4 linked regions of the Homo sapiens genome follow. The protein of the gene in region 2 purifies or fractionates together with the protein of the main gene of each other region. This does not show direct contact. Each region holds a gene or a part of one and is shown on either strand. Other genes may lie near its edges.

Region 1 (5,113 bases), on a different chromosome or scaffold from region 2:
CAGTGGCGTGATCTCAGCTCACTGCAACCTCCATCTACCAGGTTCAAGCTATTCTCCCACTGCAGCCTCTCGCCGAATAACTGGGATTACAGGCGTGCTTCACATGCCCAGCTAATTTTTGTATTTTTAGTAGAGACAGGGTTTCACCATGTTGGTCAGGCTGGTCTTGAACTCCTGACCTCAAGTGATCTGCCCACCTTGGCCTTCCAAAGTGCTGGGATTACAGGCATGAGCCACCACACCTGGCCTGTGGCCCACAGTTTCTTAATTCCTTTCACGAAAGAATTCTCTGTAGCATGCAATGCTGTTTGATAGCATTTTACCCACAGTAGAACTTCTTTCAAAGTTGGAGTCAATCCTCTCAAACCCTGCTGCTGCATTATCAACTAAGTTTATGGAATATTCTAAATCCTTTGTCGTCATTTCAACAGTGTTCACAGCATCTTCACCAGGCGTAGATGCCATCTCAAAAACCTACTTTCTTTGCTTATCCATAAAAATCAACTCCTCATCTCTTCAAGTTTTATCATGAGATTGTAGCAATTCAGTCCTATCTTCAGACTCCACTTCTAATCCTAGTTTTCTTGCTATTTCTACCACATCCGCAGTTCCATTCTCCATTGAGGTCTTGAATTCCTCAAAGTCATCCACGAGGGTTGGAGTCAGCTTATTCTAAACGCCTATTAATGTTGATATTTTGACCACCTGCCATGAATCACAGATATTTTTAAAGTCATCTAGAATGGTAAATCCTTTCCAGAAGGTTTTAAATTTATTTTGCCCAAATCCATCAGAGGAATTGCTATCTATGGCAACTATAGCCTTATGAAATGTATTTCTTAAATAATAAGAGTTAAAAGTTGAAATCCCTCCTTGATTCATGGGCTGCAGAATGGATGCTGTGTTAGCAGGCCTGAAAACAACATTCATCTCCTTGTGCATCTCCACCAGAACTCTTGGTTGACCAGGTGCATTGTCAACGAGTATAATATTTTGAAAGGAATCTTTTTTTCTGAGCAGTAGGTCTCAACAGTGGGCCTAAAATACTCAGGAAACCATGCTGTAAACAGATGTACTGTCATCCAGGCTTTGTTGTTCCTTTTCTAGAGCACAGGCAAAATAAATTTAGCATAATTTTTAAAGGCCCCAGGATCTTCAGAATGGGCAATGAGCAATGAGCATTGGCCCTGTGGTTGCTCATACCTGTAATCCCAGTACTTTCAGAGGCCAAGGTGGGTGGATTGCTTAAACCTAGGAGTTCCAGACCAGCCTGGGGAACATGGTGAAACCTTATCTCTACAAAAAATACAAAAACTTGCCAGGCATGGTGGTGGGCACCAGCTACTTGGGAGGCTGAGGCAGGAGGATTGCTTGAGCCCAGAGGCTGAGGCTGCCATGAGCCATGATTGCGCCACTGTACTCCAGCCTGGGTGACAGAGCAAGACCTTGTCAAATAAATAAATAAATAAATAATAAGATTTATTGTTAAATAAATAAATAAGACCGCAGCTACACTGGCCTCTAAAAAGAGTCCGCCTGTCCTTTGAAGCCAGGCATTGACATCTCTTGTCTAGCTATGAAAGTCCTAGAAGCCACCTTATTCCAATAGAAGGCTGTCTTATCTACATGAAAATTGATTTTTGAGTATAGCCACCTTCATCAATTCTCTTAGCTAGATGTTCTGGGTAAGTTGTTGCAGCTTCTTTTTTTTTTTCCCCATTGATCTTTGATGTTACTATGTTGTAGCTTCTCTATCAGCACTTGCTGCCTCACCTTGCACTTTTATGTTCTGGAGACAGCTTCTTTCTTAAACCTCATGAGCCAACCCCAGCTAATTTCAGACTTTTCCTCTGCAGTTTCCTCACCTCTCTCAGCCTTCGTAGAATTGAAGAGAGTTAGGGCCTTGCTCTGGATTTAGGCTTTGGCTTAAATGTTGTGACTGGTTTGATCGTCTATCTATAGCATTAAGATTTTCTCCATATGAGCAATAATGCTGTTTTGCTTTCTTATCATTTGCATATTCATTGAGTAGCACTTATTTTTATTTTTAAGCATCAGAGGTCACCACACTGGATGGAGTAGCACATTAACTTCCTTTAAAAACTTTTCCTTTGCATTTATAATGTGGCTGTTTGGTGTAAGAGGCCTAGCTTTCAGCCTGTCTCCTATGTTGGCATTCGGCATGGCTTCCTCACTAAGTTTAATCAATCATTTTTGGCTTTGATTTAAAATGAGAGATGTACAACTCTTCCTTTCACGAGAGATGTACAACTCTTCCTTTCACTTAAACAGAGGCCACTGTAGGGTTATTAATTCACCTAATTTCAATATTGTTGTGTCTCAGGGAGAGGCCTGAGGAGAGGGAGAGAGATGGGGAATAGCTGGTCGGTGGAACAGTCAGAACATAGACATTTACTGATAAAGTTCACTGTCTTCTATGGGTACAGTTGGTGGCGCCCCAAAACAATTACAATAGTAACATCAAAGATACTTATCATAGATCACCATAACAGATATAATAATAATGGAAGAGTTTGAAATATTGCAAGAATTACCAAAATGTGACACAGACACAAATTGAGCACATGCTGTTGGAAAAATGGTGCTGAAAAACTTGCTGGATGCCGAGTTGCCACAAACTTTCAATCTGCAAAAAATGCAATGTCAGCAAAGTGCAATGGAGTGAAATGCAGTAAAATGAGGTATGCCTGTATTTGAAATGATGAATTATGAAAAATATTAAAATAACTTGTAATATTAGGAAAGCGCAGAGGAAAGTTTAAAACTTTCTGCTTAATTCAGCAAGACTTAAAAAAAGTGAAAGTTTATAACTTGTCATTTGATCATACTTTTTTGCTGGTTCCTGGATTCATATGGTTCAAAATCCAAAAGGTTCCGAGGGTTCCTTCTCTCGCTGCTCCTACCCACCCGTTCCTCTCCCTGGAGCAGCAGTGTGTCCTGTTTCTTGGGTATCCTTTCAGAAAAATGTACTTTTACTGCTAACTTTAATGCTTGTTTCTTTTACCACAGGACCTTATGGATTTTCTGAACCCAAACGGTAGTGACTGTACTCTAGTCCTGTTTTACACCCCGTGGTGCCGCTTTTCTGCCAGTTTGGCCCCTCACTTTAACTCTCTGCCCCGGGCATTTCCAGCTCTTCACTTTTTGGCACTGGATGCATCTCAGCACAGCAGGTATCTTCCATTGGTGGGGTTTACGTCCATCCTCCTGGCTGATGGTTGCAGTTATTTGGAGGTCCTAATTAGTTAAGTTAGAAGCAGAAGAGGGGGGGCATGAACTGTGTCCTGGGATGGAAGGCAAGGCAAGAGTGAATAGTGAGGATTATCATACTCCTGAGGGAGCTGGTGGTGTCACTTTATGGAGGCCCCTTAAAGAAAGTGGGCTGTTCTCTGTGTGGTGGATTTAAAGGTGGCAGGTGGTAGCACCTGATGGCAGGGGAGGGGCCAGAAGACTTTTGAGGGCCATAGCCAGACTGAATCAGCACAATTGGTATCACAGTAGGATATTCCTTTGTGACTTTAAGGCGCAGGTTAAATCCCCATCCCAGGCAGCCCAATTCCCAGCACCCCTGTTTTGTGTCTACTCAGGATTTCTTCCCTTCCTTTTCTTTTTCTTTCCTTCTTTTCCCTTTCCCTCTTTCCTTCTTTCTTTCCTGCGTACTTATTCTTGCAGTCATGTTCTGTAGTAGGCACTCGATCAAGTCATGAATTAATTTAGCTCTTTAACATGACATTTATCTTTGTTTTATATTTCTCGTGTATCATTCACTGGGTTTTTGTCCAGGCTGGCCTTGAACTCCTGGGCTCAAGCGATCGTCCTGACTTAACCTCCTGAGTAGCAGGACTACAGGCATGCGCCACCATGCCAGGCTGGTCATTTTTTTTTTCTTTTTTTTTTTTTTTTGAGGTGGAATCTTGCTCTGTCACCCAGGCTGGAGTGCAATGGTGTGATCTAGGCTCACTGCAACCTCTGCCTCCCAGGTTCAAGTGATTCTCCTGCCTCAGCCTCCTGAGTAGCTGGGATTACAAGCACCTGCCACCATGCCGGCTAATTTTGTATTTTTAAACGGGGTTTCACCGTTTGTTGGCCAGGCTGGTCTCGAACTCCTGACCTTGTGATCTACCAGCCTCGGCCTCCCAAAGTGCTGGGATTACAGGTGTGAGCCACTTTTTGTCTTTTTTAAATGTTTAGTAAAGTAAGTTACAGAGAACTTTGTTGAGATGGTATATGTTTCTCCTAAGTGCTGCGATTGTGCCTGAGTTATAAACTGTTCTTCTCTTCCAAATCAGATGCTCCTTAGTAGGTCAGCCTCAACAAGGAGGTTGTGTGTAAATAAATCTAGAACATCTGAAAAATGGTCAATTGGTGGTAAAATGAAGTTGAGTAAACTTCCATTACTCTGTACTTGAGGCCAGGTGCAGTGGCTCACACCTGTAATCCCATCACTTTGAGAGGCCAAGGTAGAAGGATTGCTTGAGCCCAAGAGTTTGAGACCAGCCTGGACAACATGGCAGAACTCCATCTCTATAAAAAAAAATACAAAAAATTGACTGAGGATGGTGGCACATACCTGTGGTACCCCAGCTACTTGGGAGGCTGAGGTGGGAAGATTGCCTGAACCAGGGGAGGTCAAGGTCACAGTGAGCCGTGATCCTGTCACTGCACTCCAGCCTGGGCTACAGAGTGAGACCCTGTCTCAAAAAAAAAAAAATTGTATTCCACTGATTTTCATTGTGGGAATATAACTGCCAATGTTTACCTGAAACTTTTATGAAGAAAGAAATGGCTCAACAAATTAGTAATTTTCATATAGGCTTCTGGGTTATATCTAAGTGACTGGGCCCAAGGGAGCAGACTGATTGGAAGGACAGATCACGTCAGTGTCCAGCTTTGGTGGGGCCTCCACTGCCCCCAGGCATACTCAGTGCTCTTTGGTTCTGGGTCTCACACTGTCCCTCCTGCCTCTCCCGCAACTCCCTCCCTAACCTGCTTTCTTCTTTCCTTCCTTCAGCTCCATGTTGTATCTTAATTATGGAGACTAAGGCTCTTGCTGTTATTATATGGGCTGGGACATGTTTGCTTCTTATGTTAA
Region 2 (5,113 bases):
ATTCGCCTCCTCTCCTGGGACCCTCACTCGAGGCTCGGGTCAGGCTGGGGGCGCCTGCTGGCTCCCCCTCTGCAGCTGACAGCCTCCGGCCCCCCAGGAGGACCCAAGAACAGGGAGGCCGAAGGGCATCAAGCCTTCTTCACCTGACAACAGGGCCCCAGGCCTAAAAGCGCCACTAATCCCTCCCTCGGCCGTGGGACTCCCGAACCGCACATACAAGTCCTGAGTGATACTTGTCACAGCCCATGCCTGCCCACTAAGCCGCCTTGAGCCCCGCACCCACTGAGGGCCTCTCTCAACTACGACGGCAGCGTGTGCGGACAGGGATGGCACTCTCGGCTCTGCCCGGCCTGCTCTGCCCTCGGCCCTGAGCCCCTGCACCAGGCCTCCGTGGATTGCCAGGCTCAGGGTGCAACACTGGCGGGGGCAGCCCAGAGCCACAGGCAGAGCTGTGAGGGAATTCCTGAACTCCATTCCTTCTTACTCCAAAACTACACTTCAGGGGCGGCCACGCACCCTGCCCAGCCCAGCAGTCGGCATGTCCCTGTGCTGTGACCAGCCCTGCCAGGCCCCCAGCTCTCAACCACAGCCCCATTTCACAGAAGATGGAAAAGGGGCCAGGCTTCAGGCCACCTGGCTAGGACCACAGGCGAGCACGGCCCCACCGGCTAGAGGGCAAGGGCACCAGGGTACCCAGAAAGGACCAGCTCAGGGCCAGGCCACCTGCTCCTCAGAAGCCACCCCAATCCCATCCCCACAGAGAGTGTGGTCTCCGTCACCCCTGGGGGCTGCTCTAGGACAGGCACCCAACAAGACCACGGCCAAAGTTCCACAGCCCCAGCCAGCAGCTCAGGAAGAACAGACTCATCTCCGCCCTCCCCACGGCCACACTCGGCCCGGATCCTCCCCATGTTCACACTCGGCCCAGATCCTCCCCACAGATGGATCTGCCTTTAGCGAGAAGTCGGAAGACCAGCCCCAGCTGCTGCCATCTCTGCCTCCTGCACCCCCCTCCTGCCCCTGAGAGCTGGCCCAGCGGGGGACGCACAGGGCCGTACCAGCCTCTCCCTGCTGACGATGAGCAGCCCGCGTGCTCCGCTGCCCTGGGCCAGCCTCACTTTCTCATAGAAGGTGCAGTTCCCCCGCGCCACCAGCGGGATCTGGTTGCTGAAGCCACGGGCGGGGAGGTCGGCTGCGGAGCAGAGCAGGGAGGCCGTCCAGTTGCGCAGCTGCAGGAAAGACTGGAAAGGCCAGGGCACAGTGTTGTCTCACGTGATGTGAGTCACCAGGAGGGCCCAGCTGCCCGTTCTCCCACCTGAAGCCTGCGCTGAGTTAGATCCCAGCCCTCACCTAAAGCCCCGCACGGCCTCGGCCCACCTAGGCAGAGCCATCCCTACTGCAGCTCCCACAGCCGGACCCTGGGCGACGGGCTGGGCTGCCTCATCTGAGCGGGGCCGGAGTCCTCACAGACATGGCTGTCCCCTGATACCTGAGCCACCCCGCGAGCCGTCACAGATCACTCAGCAAGACCAAGTGGGTCCCCACCGCAGCCCCACCACGGCCAGGCATCTGTGAGAAGGGGGAGGGTTTCCAGTGTGCAGAGAACAAAGCCCCAACTCTCAGGGGCCTCACAGCCCCTGAAGCCAAGACACACACGCACACACACACGCACACGCACACACACACCCACAGCCAGGCCGGAACACGCGCACACACAAGCACACGTCCACAGCCAGGCTGGAGCACACGGCACACACATGCATACATGCACACACACACACACACCCACAGCCAGACCAGTGCACACGCACACACCCACAGCCAGGCTGGAGTGCACACACACACACACGCACATAGCCGCAGCCAGGCCAGCGCGCACACACACACACACCCACAGCCAGGCTGGAGTGCATGCACACACACGTGCACACATACACAGCCAGGCCGGACCACATGGCACACATATGCACACGCAAGCACACACATGCACACTCACACTCAAGCAGACACATGCCTATTACACACATGCACACACACACGCACACACAGCCAGGCCAGAGCACACAGCACACGTGTGCATATACAAGCACATACCTGTGCACTCAAGCTCACGCACACACACCTATTACACACACATGCATACACACACGCCACATGAACTCACACACTCACACGCACATACCTATTACACATGCACTCACACACACTCATGCACACACACGAACCCAAACACACAGGCACATACACATCCACACACAAACCTATTATCCACATGTACACACACATACACACAGACCTATTACACATGTACACACGCACACATGTGCAGACACATGCACACATCCACAAACATAACTATTATGTAGCTACATGCTTACACACACCTGCACACATACAGACACACATGCACTCACACATCCATACACAAAACTATTGCATGCACACTCACAGGCACATGTGCACATAAAAACAGACATACACATTCAGACCCATGCACATGCCCCCACACACCTATTACACACATGCTCACACACACAGGTGTGCTGACACACAAACACGCACTAAGGCACACATGTCCATGCACATATCTAGTACACATGTGCTCACACACACAAACTCAGAAATATGCACTCAGGCACATGTCTTCACACATACCTATTACATGTGTTCACATACCTATTACATGTGTTGACACACACCTATGTGTTCACACACAAAAAAACACTCAGGCACATGCACACATACACTGATGCAAACTCACATAAACATGCAGACACATGAGCATGTCCAGGCACATACTGATTACACACGTGCTCACACGCACACACTATGCATAAAGCTGACAGGAAGATGCTAGTGCCTCTTCGCCGGCACACCTCGAGGGCTCCAGGAGGGGGCGGGACACAGTGGGAAAGGAGGCGGGGCCTGAGGGACTCAGTGGGAAAGGAGGCGGGGCCTGAGGGATGCGGTGGGAAAGGAGAGAGGGCCTGAGGGATACGGTGGGAAAGGAGGCAGGGCCTGAGGGATGGGGTGGGAAAGGAGGCGGGGCCTGAAGGATGCAGTGGGAAAGGAGGCAGGGACAGAGGGGTGTGGTGGGAAAGGAGGCGGGGCCAGAGGGATGCAGTGGAAAAGGAGGCAGGGCCTGAGGGATGAAGTGAGAAAGGAGGCGGGGCCTGAGGGATGCAGTGGGAAAGGAGGCGGGGCCTGAAGGATGCAATGAGAAAGGAGGCGGGGCCTGAAGCATGCAGTGGGAAAGGAGGCGGGGCCTGAAGCATGCAGTGGGAAAGAAGGCGGGGCCTGAAGGATGCAGTGAGAAAGGAGGCGGGGCCTGAAGGATGCAGTGGGAAATGAGGCGGGGCCTGAAGGATGCAGTGGGAAAGGAGGCGGGGCCTGAAGGATGCAGTGGGAAAGGAGGCGGGGCCTGAAGGATGCAGTGGGAAAGGAGGCGGGGCCTGAAGGATGCAGTGGAAAGGAGGCGGGGCCTGAGGGATGCGGTGGGAAAGGAGGCGGGGCATGAGGACTAAGTGGGAAAGGAGGTGGGGCCTCTGAGGGAGGGACTCATCCAGCAGCAGGTGTTAGTGCCCCAGTCAGGAAGACGGTGAAAGGAACAGGTCTCGTCCCTGGGGCCCCACTGTGCCCTCTGCTGTTACTCCTCTGAGGACCCCTCTGTCTGGGCCCACTGGATAGGGTCCCCGGCATGGAGCAGTAGAGACCCTTATCTACCACATGGAGCTCGGCCGGTGCCTCTGGATCTGCACCCCAAGGCCGCATGGACAGCTTGCATTGATGACCAGGGTTGGGGAGGCCCAGGGGAACTGGGGGCCAGCTAAGAGTCCCCCAGACCTGGTCAGGGCCTGCCTCTCGCCTCTGGATCTTTCCTGCAACCCCAGCCGGATGTGTCTCTAGAGCCCCGGGGCCCCCGCATTCTCCTCCGCAGCGGCGCCCGGCCAGCGGGTACTCACTGCCTTGCTGAGGTCGTGCGGAAGATGGGCCCACTGCGGGTTGTAGAGGATGCAGTAGTCTTTGCCTTCGGGGCCCCCGGCCTGGGAGACCACGTGCACCATGCCGTACTCACAGGCCACCTGCAGGACAAGGCCAGCAGTCAGAGCCACAGCACGGGACGTGCGGGGCTGCACCGCCCCACGAGAAACAGGCCCGAGGAGGGGAGGACGCCTCCAGGAAGGGCGCCCATGTTCACCAGGTGGTCTGGGATGCTTCCCCCTCTCGACAGGACAGACAGGGACGTGACCATACGTGGTTTACAGCAAAGACCCAGACTGGCTCACCTTCCTCAGGGAGCCCCAGGCTGGTGACCATGAGTGTGTCAGGTCACCCCTTTGTGGCTCCCGAGTTTCTGCACCAAAAAACAGGGATCGCACCACCTCCTGGGCCTCCCAGGATCAGTGGGCACGGTGGGAGAATGACAGCCACGGGCAGAGCCACGGGCAGAGCCCTGAGCAGGGAAGCAGGGCAGGGCCCCAGCGGACCTGGCCCCCAGCCTGGGCGGGAGGCCTGGACAAGCAAGCCTCTGCACCCCTCAGGTCTGGGTGGCCTTTGACCCACAGCCCCGTGGGCACTGCTTGTTGGCTGGTGCTCCAAGGCACACGGGGGCCCAGGCACACGGTGGGGCCCAGACGAGGGGGATCCCCAGATCAGCACCCCTCAGCTCCCACTGGTAGAACAGCAGGAAGCAGGTGGGCCAAGGGGCCTACGGGCACCGGGTCCTGAGTGGGACAGGCTGAGGTTTGCAACAGGTCACGCTGCCACCAGCAGGACAGACAGCGTCATGTTCCCCATGAAGCCCCAAAGCAGCAGAGTCCAGCACAGCAGCTCCCACTTCGCAGGAGGGAGAAGGAACAGCCAGCCAGGGCTTCAAGTTCCTGCTCTCCAGCCTGCAGCAGCAGCAGCTCAGAGAAGGCCACAGGGAGAAGGCCCGGATCCACGGGCAGGAGCCCCTGACACACAACGGGGACAACAGGCCAAAGCCAGCCAAGAGAAGCAGGGGTGGTGGCCACCGCGCCCAGGACAGAACGGGCTGGGGCCCTTGCCACGCTCTCAAAATGAAGTAGGGGGCAGGACCAGGCCCCAAAGCCCTGGACGCCTCCCAGGAGGG
Region 3 (4,161 bases), on a different chromosome or scaffold from region 2:
AAGCTACTAAAACTCCCAGGGTGTTACCCAATAAAACACTTGGCACCAATCCAAGCTGATTTTCTGACCGATGACTTTTATCATAAACAGCAGCTTCTACCACCCCTTTAATACTGCATCATTCTTTGGGTGTCCCTAAATGTTTTCACTATTCCTATAAAATACAATGCGGGGCAGAAACAACATCAAAGCCACTGGTGTGATTTTAAACCAGGGAGATTAACTGTTTTGAGGTTTGGCTGAACCACCCAAAATAATTTAGTAGTTTCCGCTAAAAATGTAAACTTACAAATAAGAGGGAGACTGCTTTGAATGATAATACCAATGCGTCTGCTCACAGTACAGCTTGAAGGCCCCCTCCTGTACCCCCACAAAAAAACTCAAAAATAGGACTGAGATGCCACAGCCAAGCGGGCTGTTCACTCCAAAGCCTCGGCGTGGGGGAGGCTTCCAGCTGCCAGGCTGGCCTGCACTGAAGGGTCAGACGCCAGACTGTGGCTCCAGAGCAGACTGAGCCATCGATTCTCAGGTGTCTCTGCAAATAAAGTTCTCAAAACATCTGTGCCTTTACCAAGGGAGGGGAAGGGAAGAGGATACATAAAAGCTGGCAGTTTTGTTGAATCCACCCCGAACCAGTCCTTGACGGCCACGGGTCTTAGCCAGGCAGGTAGGGATCTGTGACTGTTACCACTCCTTCTTCTTCTCATCCATGGAGACACCCCCAGGGCCCAGGGCCACCACCAGGAGCAAGCCCCCAATCACCGACATGGTCTGGAAGAAGTCGTATTTCAGGAAGTCATGCATGGGCTTGTAGACTGGAATGGTCCAGAAGGCGTTGAAATATACGTTGATGGCAAAGAGCCACACAACAAGAGTCAAAGCAGCCAGCTTGGTTTTAAAACCAATGGCCACTAAAATCATCAGAGCTGTGCCCACGATGTTCTGGACAATCTGCATAGGTTGAAACGTAAGAAATTCAAAATAAATGTGAGGAAAAGAGATGCTTTATAAACAAAAGTTCCAGCTGCTGCACGTCATGAAGTCTCTATCCATCAGGCTGATGTAGCTACTGCTGAGACGGCTGCTGGTGCAAGTAGGGAGATAAAAGCCAAAGGGAGGCAGGAGGCAATAAAGCACCAGCTTTGAAATGTGGAAGGTTTGGGGAAGACTGAAGTTCCCAACTAGTAACAGGCTGTGATTTACCAAGATGAATCTCTAATCCATAACTAAATTCCCAAGTGCTTCTTGGCCCACCCAGCCATCCAGGCCAGAAACATCCTCTCTCCTCTCTCCATGGCGCCAGGAGCTCTTCCTGGACACTACCCGGCCAGGGCTCTCAGTCAGCTCCGGAGGTGTGCTCTGGAAGCTCCTGGAGGCCTGCCCCTGACACCTGACACACAGGAATTACTTGAGAAAGATACGAACAGTGAGGAAAGAAAGAAGAGTAAGGGGAGCCCGGGTGGAGAGCCTTGGCCAACCAAGGGCCAAGCACACTCCACCAAGGTCAGAGGTTCTGGCCTTCATTTGCTGGAAAGAAGGCTTGACACACAAGAGATTGACGATGTTTTGGTCTGTTTTAATGGGATCAAAAAGTTTGCTCCGCCGAGCACGGTGGCTCACGCCTGTAATCCCAGCAATTTGGGAGGCTGAGACAGGCAGATCACGAGGGGTCAGGAGATCGAGACCATCCTGGCTAACACGGTGAAACCCTGTCTCTACTAAAAATACAAAAAATTAGCCAGGCGTGTTGGCAGGCGCCTGTAGTCCCAGCTGCTCGGGAGGCTGAGGCAGGAGAATGGCGTGAACCCGGGAGGCGGAACTTGCGGTGAGCCGAGATCACGCACTGCACTCCAGCCTGGGGGACAGAGCGAGACTCCGTCTCAAAAAAAAAAAAAAAAAAGTTTGCTCCATTTCAGCAGCTCCCCCAGGCTGTGGTTAATACCCAACCAGGGAGGGGTGAGCAGGGAGGGGGTGGGGGAGGGACAGCATTCACAGGAAACCAGACCGGTTCAGGCAAGTAGGAATACTTACAGAAAAGAAGCTGGCGTCAAAGTGAAGGAGGGTCATGAACATCAGAACCAGCAAGACCCTGCCTCCGAGCTGCATGTACTGTTTGGGGGAGCTCTCACGCATGGTGGGGACGCCCGCAAACATGCTCTTCCCTTCAGAACGGGATTCTGCTAGGAGCAGCAACAGGCCTCCTCCCAGGGCCAGGTTCCTGAGGAACAGATATGTGGGCTGGAAGCTAAGCCTCACCAGGATCTGGCCTGTCTGTGAGACCAGGTGCAGGGAGACCTTGCTGCCAGTATAAGAAGGCCCTTACTTCCCTTTCTCCAAACCCAGTGATCTGCCAAGCAGGACCAGGCAGGCATGCGCACAGGACCTCAGACTCGAGTTACACCCATGTAAAACCTTACATAGCTCAGGAGACAGAGGTATCTTTACAACTCGACAGTGACAGGCTACCTGAACACACACACAACCGAGTCCTAGTCACAGCTTCAGTGTTGACCAGCTGGGTCCCCGTGGTCAGGTCTGTCCTCCACTCAGACCCGGAGTCCCCACACCCGTGAAATAAGGGTCAGAAGAGACGGCTTCAGTCTCTACTATTCTAGGGGCTCTGCAACATCCTCTTCAGAACCTGTTTCTAAGAGGCACAATTTAGACAGGGGGGTCCAATCTTTTGGCTTCCCTGGGCTACCCTGGAAGAACTGTCTTGGCCACACATAAAATACACTAATGCTAATGATAGGTGATGAGCTAAAAAATAAAACTTAAAAATCACAAAAAAAACTCTCAATGTTTTAAGAAAGTTTTTGAGTTTGTGTTGGGCCATGTTCACCCCGTGGACCACAGGCTGGACAAGCTTGGTTTAGACCCAGAGAAGTCTACTCAAACCAATAGTTAACTGAGTTTAGAAATACAGATTGAGTATCCCTAACCTGAAATGCTTAGGACCCAAAGTGTTTCAGATTTTGGTATATTTGCATTATATACTTATTGGCTGAGCATCCCAAATCTGAAAATCCAAAACCTGAAATGCTCCAATGAGCACTTCCTTTGAGCGTCATGTTGGTGCCCAAGATTTTTCCCATTTTGGAGCATTTCAGACTTTGGATTTGCAATGCTCAACCTGTAGAAGGAGCGTATACTAAAACCAACCAGAATGCACATACCTCATCAAAAACTTCAAGTCCCATAAAATGCTGTAGGCAATCGTCTGAGGGGAAAGAAGAGAGAGATACTTGAGTCTCAGCCTTTCCAAAGGCATTTCCACAGACTTCATAATACATTAGGCCGTCTCTCCAATGTCAGCTGGAGTCTAAAACACACAAAACCATTGTAGGAGACCGAGGACAGATCTAAGCTCAAAAATGTGGTTCTGTATTTCTCAAGAAATGTGCTATGATGTTCCAGAGAACAAAGTGATTCTGAGACCACTGATGTGGATTCAGATATTCTGTTCCCAGCATTTCATTCTGAATAACCAAGTATTCTTCTTTATGAAGCAACGTGATAACAAGACAGCATCCTGGCTGCAGCCAAGCTCGAGACTTCCCTTGTCACGGTAATCATAGAAATGGGACAAAAGATGGCCCAGTACCGAATGACCTGCCTCTACAGCCCTGCTTGGGCTCACGACTTCCCCAGAAGAGAAAGGAGCTCCAGGCAGTCAGAGACATGCAGGGGGCTGAAGGGGGAGTGACACTGAACCCTCAAGGATGTCTTTTCAGAAGCTCTGCTCCACCAGAGCAAAGAGAAGGGAGCCCCGACCACGCGGCCCGTGTACCTGCAGAGCTATGATTCCAAAGAGCCCGAAGCAGGCGTACTGCACGAAGTTCCTGCTCAACACCAGGACGCAGCCAGCTGGAGAGAAGGACAAGGGTTAGGGGGCCTGAGGGTGGGTGCCGGCGGGGAGCACTGTCTTGATACACTGCTACCTCACCTGGCCCTTAGGTCCAGAGGCAGCCAAACCACCTACCCAAGCAAAAGACAACTTCTGGAAGAATTAATGATAGGCAAGGACCACACATGGTAAGCTGACTAGACTTATCACAAACACCAGAAAGTGGAGCCCTTGCCGTCATAAAGAATGGGCTGTTTCCCACAATCAGCTCCCAAGTCAGCCACCCACCTGAGGTAGGCAATTAACTGCTCTAC
Region 4 (5,113 bases), on a different chromosome or scaffold from region 2:
ATTTATGGGGTTTCACCATGTTGGCCAGGCTGGTCTTGAACTCCTGGCCTCATGTGACCTGCCTGCCTTGGCCTACCAAAGTGCTGGGGTAACAGGCGTGAGCCACCGTGCCCAGCCAGTAAGTGGTGTTTCAGTCCACCAAGTTTTGGGGTAATTTGTTACACAGCAATAGCTAACACAACCACAGGAAATACCTCAACTGTATAAAGCTTTTAGTATCCCTCCCTTTCCTCCTCTGGATCTTCAGCCTGTGTGCACAGTCGACAACCAGGAAAGTCCAGTGCTTTTCATGTTTGACCAGACAGTTGGACTGTCAAATCGGTGTCTAATTACACCTCTGTTATCTAAAACTGTGTTGATGGAGTCCACTGAATTTGATTCCTAAACCATCACTAATCAATCTTTCTGTGTCAGCTAAAAGCAACATAGCTTGGTTTTCTTGCCGAGTGGTGATGATCTCTACTGTCCTGTGCTGGAAGACACCTACAGAGGAATAGGTGGTGCCAAGATCAGTGACAACTGCAGATAGCTTTGATGTGGTTTTGCAAGGGGCGGTGTCTAGCTTAGAGGAAAAAAATGTAGACACTAAAGTGGAACATAGCATTCAATAAGCCATGGTAGGTTTTTGAAATTATAAATCATGTATTTTTTATTTTTATTTTTTTGAGACAGGGTCTCACTCTGTCACCTAGACTGGGATGTAGTGGCGTGATCATGGCTCACTGCAGCCTCAAACTCCTGGGCTAAAGCAATCCTCCTGCCTCAACCTCCCAGGGTAGCTGAGACTACAGGCACATGCCATTATACCTGGCTAATTTTTTTAAAAAAAAGGTTAGTAGAAATGAGGTCTCATTGTGTTTCCCAGGCTAATCACTTATTTTTGATGTGATACAAGGTGAATGTGGGGATTGGTAGGAAATATGATTGAAAAACAGAAACAATAGGAAGGACCTTGTATATCAAGCCAGAACACTTGAGGCAATGAGGGAAACTGGAGGTATTAAAATTAGTTGGAGGGAATCAGAAAAGACAATCAGTAGACACTAATATCAAGAGGTATCTGAGGTTAGGTATTATTAGATGATGTTAGAGCAACCATCATAAAAATGATTCAACAAGCAATTCTGAACACATTTGAAACAAACGAAAAAGCAGGAAGTCTCTGCAAAGAAACAGAAGATACAAATAAAAAAACATGGAAATTTTAGAACTGAAAAATATAATAAATGAAATAAACTCAATGTTGGGCAGCAGAACGAATGTAACAGAGGAAGGAATCAATCAACTAGAAGATGAAACAAAGGACATTACCCAATCTTAACAGAGACAAAATATACTGGAAAAGAAGTGAACAGAGCCTCAAAGACCTTGTGAAATGATAATAAAAGATAAAATGTAGATGTCATAGAATTATGGCAGATTTCCGTCAGAAACCATGGAGGTCAGAAGGAAGTGGCATGGCATTTTTCAGGTGCTGAAAGAAAGAAAACTGTCTACCTAGAATCCTATTTCTAGGAAAATATCCTGCAAGAATGAAGAGAAAATTAATACACTCTCAGATGAAGACAAACTAAGAGAATTTGTCTCACTAGACTTACCTTAAAAGAATGGCTAAATAAAGTTCTTGAAAAAAAAAAACAGTAAAAGAAATCTTAGAAGATCAGAAGGAGAAAAGAACAGAAAGAATAAAAACATGGGCACATACAACAGACTTTGCTTTTCTTAGTTTTCTAAATTATGTTTGATGGTTGAAGCAAAAATTATAACATTATCTGATGAAGTTTTCTATGTCTGCAGAAGAATAGTTAAGAAAATTATAAATACGGAAGGGTAAAGGAATATAAAAGAAATAAGAATTCTTTTTTTTTTTCTGCATCCAATCATCCATTAGGGAAATAAAGATTCTATACTTCATTTAATCTGCAAGATGTTGAAATCAGTAGATTGTAATAAGTTATATACGTAAGATGTAATAACCAGAGCAACTACTAAATATCTATGCAACGAGATATATTAAAAAGTAACATCAAAATGAAATACCAAAAAATTGTTTCAGTAACCACAGGAAGACAGGAACTTTGATACAAGCAACAATTTGGATGGATCCAAGTTGAGGGCATTATGCTCTGTGAAAAAAGCCAGTTAAAAAGTCACATACAGATCGAGACCATCCTGGCTAAACACAGTGAAACCCCATCTCTACTAAAAATACAAAAAAAAATTAGCTGGGCTTGGTGGCGGGTGCCTGTAGTCCCACCTACTCAGGAGGCTGAGGCAGGAGAATGGCGTGAACCCGGGAGGCAGAGCTTGCAATGAGCCAAGATTGAGCCACTGCACTCCAGCCTGGGCAACAGAGCAAGACTCCGTCTCAAAAAAAAAAAAAAAAAAAAAGTCACATACTGTATGACTATCTATATAACATCCTCAAAATGACAAAATTATGGAGATGGAGAAGAGATTACTCACTGCCAGGGGTTAGGGACAGTCCGGGTAGGGGGAGGGCAGTGTGACTATACAGGGTAGCATGAGGAAAAGTGATAAAACAGTTTTGTGTCTTTTTGTTTTGTTTTTTTTGAGATGGAGTCTCGCTGCAACGCCCAGGCTGGAGTGCAATGGCATGACCTCAGCTCACTGCAACCTCCACTTCCTGGGTTCAAGCGATTCTGCTGCCTCAGCCTCCCGAGTAGCTGGGACTACAGGCACGCGCCACCACACCCAGCTAATTTTTGTATTTTTAGTAGAGACAGCGTTTTACCATATTGGCCAGGCAGGTCTCGAACTCTTGACCTCAAGTGATCTGCCCACCTCTAGCCTCACAAAGTGCTGGGGTTACAGGCATGAGCCACCGCACCTGGCACAGTTTTGTGTCTTGATCATGTGGTTGCATGGATCTATAGATGTGGCAAAATGTCACAGAACTATGTGCACACATTGTACTAATGTCAATTTTCTGTTTTCTATGCTCTTTCCCCATGTGGTCTACCTCCATCACTACAGCTTTTTTTTTTTTTTTTTTTTTGAGACGGAGTCTCACTCTGTCATCCAGGCTGGAGTGCACTGGCTCGACCTTGGCTCACTGCAACCTCCACCTCCTGGGTTCAAGTGATTCTCCTGCCTCAGCCTCTCGAGTAGCTCGGACTATAGGAGAATGCCACCATGCCTGGCTAATTTTTGTATTTTTAGTAGAGACAGGGTTTCGCCATGTTGGCCAGGCTGGTCTCAAACTCCCAACCTCAGGTGATCCATCCGCCTCAGCCTCCCAAAGTGCTGGGATTTCTTAATACACGTCTCTTTTCCCGACTTTGCTTCTGCCCTTCTAAATGCCTGCATGACGGAGCTAATTGGATATCTTGTTGCTACTCTAATCTCAGCATATCTTAGATTTAGTCTGTCACCTCCCCTCTCTGACCTCTCATTATTGTTTTTCCACCTTTCTACTTGTCACCTCCAGGCAAACATCAGTCATCCTTTATTCTTTCTTCTCCATGGCCTCTTATTACCCATCACTTGATTTGTCTTACATGATTCTTTCTTAAATTTATTTCTATTCTCACTGTCACCATGACAGATCAGAAGCAGTCATGAACTCTTGCTTGAAACTTGACAAGAACTTACTGATGGACCATTAGGCTTCCAAACTCTCATCTTATTCACCAACCTTATCTAGTCTGTAGAGCTAATATCAGAAGATCCTTTGACACAAAAAATTGAAGTGACTGTACAGAGGACAAGAAGGGGAAATATAAAGAGATTTGAATGGAAGTCAAACAAGATATTTCTCTGCAAGCAGTTAAACATATTCAACTTATAGGCGACAACGTGTCTTTTTCTCTCATTAGAAGTGCAAAATACGTACCTTAACTCTTCGGCCAATGCTAAGGAATTGACACGTTTTATCGTAAAGTCCTTCCAGGTTTTCTCTGTCCCAGTAGAAATCAGGAGTAATCAGGAAGTCTGAACTCAAGTTTATACGGTGCCTTTAAAAAGGAAAATTATAACTTTTTATTTATCTTGAATTAAAAATCATTGTTTCTATTGTATTTAATATTTACATAGTGCTTTATGAAAACTTTTTTTTTTTTGGTAAGAGAGAGGGTCTTGCTATGTTACCCGGGATGGAGTGCAGTGGTGTGATCACAACTCACTGCAAACTGAACTCCTGGGCTCAAGCTGTTCTCCTGCCTCAGCCTCCCATGTAGCTGGAACTACAGGCATGTGGCATTGCATGTGGCTGAAAACATTTGTTAATGCTGACCTTTGCAAAATACTGCCAACAAACATGTAAATAAAATTTACAAATGAGTTTCAAACTTCTGAACCAAATTAATTCAATCTTTAATACCAACATTATTTATGAAGTACACAGAAAAAAACTCATTTTGTTTTCAATTTTTTTTTTTTTTTTGAGACAGAGTCACTCTTGTCACCCAGGCTGGAGTACAATGGCATGATCTCAGCTCACTGCAACCTCTGCCTCCCAGATTTAAGCAATTCTCCTGCCTCAGCCTCCCAAGTAGCTGGGATTACAGGTGCCTACCATCACACCTGGCTAATTTTTTGTATTTTTAGTAAAGGGTTTTACCAAGTTGGCCAGGCTGGTCTCGAACTCCTGACCTCACGTGATCTGCCTACCTCAGCCTCCCAAAGTGCTGGGATTACAGGTGTGAGCCACCATTCCCAGCCTAAACTTTTTTTATTAAAAATTTTAGGGCCAGGCATGGTGGTTCATGCCTGTAATCCCAGCACTTTGGAAGGCCAAGGCGGGCAGATTGCTCGAGTCTGTGAGTTCAAGACCAACCTGGACAGCACAGCGAAACCCTATCTCTACAAAAAATACAAGAACTAGCCAGGTGTGGTGGTGTATGCCTGTAGTCCCAGCTACTTGGGAGGCTGAGGTGGGAGGATCATGTGAACCTCGGAGGCAGAGGCTGCAGTGAGCCAAGACTGTGACACTGTACTCCAGCCTAGGCAACATAGTGAGACCCCATCTCAAATAAAAAAAAAATTTAATATGTCCACACTTTTTTGTTTTTTATTTAAAAAATTTTTTTAGAGATAATGTCTTCATATGTCACCCAGTTTGGGGTGCAGTGACACAATCATAGCTTACCGC

Evidence for each region.
Region 1: the proteins of SPPL2B (region 2) and TXNDC15 purify together in Homo sapiens (co-immunoprecipitation; 3 studies listed by BioGRID and IntAct, with this or other methods). This does not show direct contact.
Region 3: the proteins of SPPL2B (region 2) and SURF4 purify together in Homo sapiens (co-immunoprecipitation; 3 studies listed by BioGRID and IntAct, with this or other methods). This does not show direct contact.
Region 4: the proteins of SPPL2B (region 2) and RMND1 purify together in Homo sapiens (co-immunoprecipitation; 3 studies listed by BioGRID and IntAct, with this or other methods). This does not show direct contact.

Annotation. Positions count from the first base shown.
Region 1 is NC_000005.10:134,890,462-134,895,574, forward strand, and holds part of TXNDC15 (thioredoxin domain-containing protein 15 isoform 1 precursor), read left to right. Parts: intron 1-3,030; coding exon 3,031-3,194; intron 3,195-5,113. UniProt on the Homo sapiens protein: Acts as a positive regulator of ciliary hedgehog signaling. Involved in ciliogenesis.
Region 2 is NC_000019.10:2,333,571-2,338,683, reverse strand, and holds part of SPPL2B (signal peptide peptidase-like 2B isoform 2 precursor), read right to left. Parts: intron 4,083-5,113; coding exon 3,963-4,082; intron 1,242-3,962; coding exon 1,059-1,241; intron 1,053-1,058; exon of another isoform or gene 1-1,052. UniProt on the Homo sapiens protein: Intramembrane-cleaving aspartic protease (I-CLiP) that cleaves type II membrane signal peptides in the hydrophobic plane of the membrane. Functions in ITM2B and TNF processing.
Region 3 is NC_000009.12:133,362,809-133,366,969, forward strand, and holds part of SURF4 (surfeit locus protein 4), read right to left. Parts: intron 3,868-4,161; coding exon 3,791-3,867; intron 3,221-3,790; coding exon 3,177-3,220; intron 2,219-3,176; coding exon 2,032-2,218; intron 952-2,031; coding exon 685-951; 3' UTR 668-684; coding exon of another isoform or gene 656-667; 3' UTR 1-655. UniProt on the Homo sapiens protein: Endoplasmic reticulum cargo receptor that mediates the export of lipoproteins by recruiting cargos into COPII vesicles to facilitate their secretion.
Region 4 is NC_000006.12:151,413,423-151,418,535, forward strand, and holds part of RMND1 (required for meiotic nuclear division protein 1 homolog), read right to left. Parts: intron 3,978-5,113; coding exon 3,857-3,977; intron 3,850-3,856; exon of another isoform or gene 3,659-3,849; intron 2,127-3,658; exon of another isoform or gene 1,996-2,126; intron 1-1,995. UniProt on the Homo sapiens protein: Required for mitochondrial translation, possibly by coordinating the assembly or maintenance of the mitochondrial ribosome.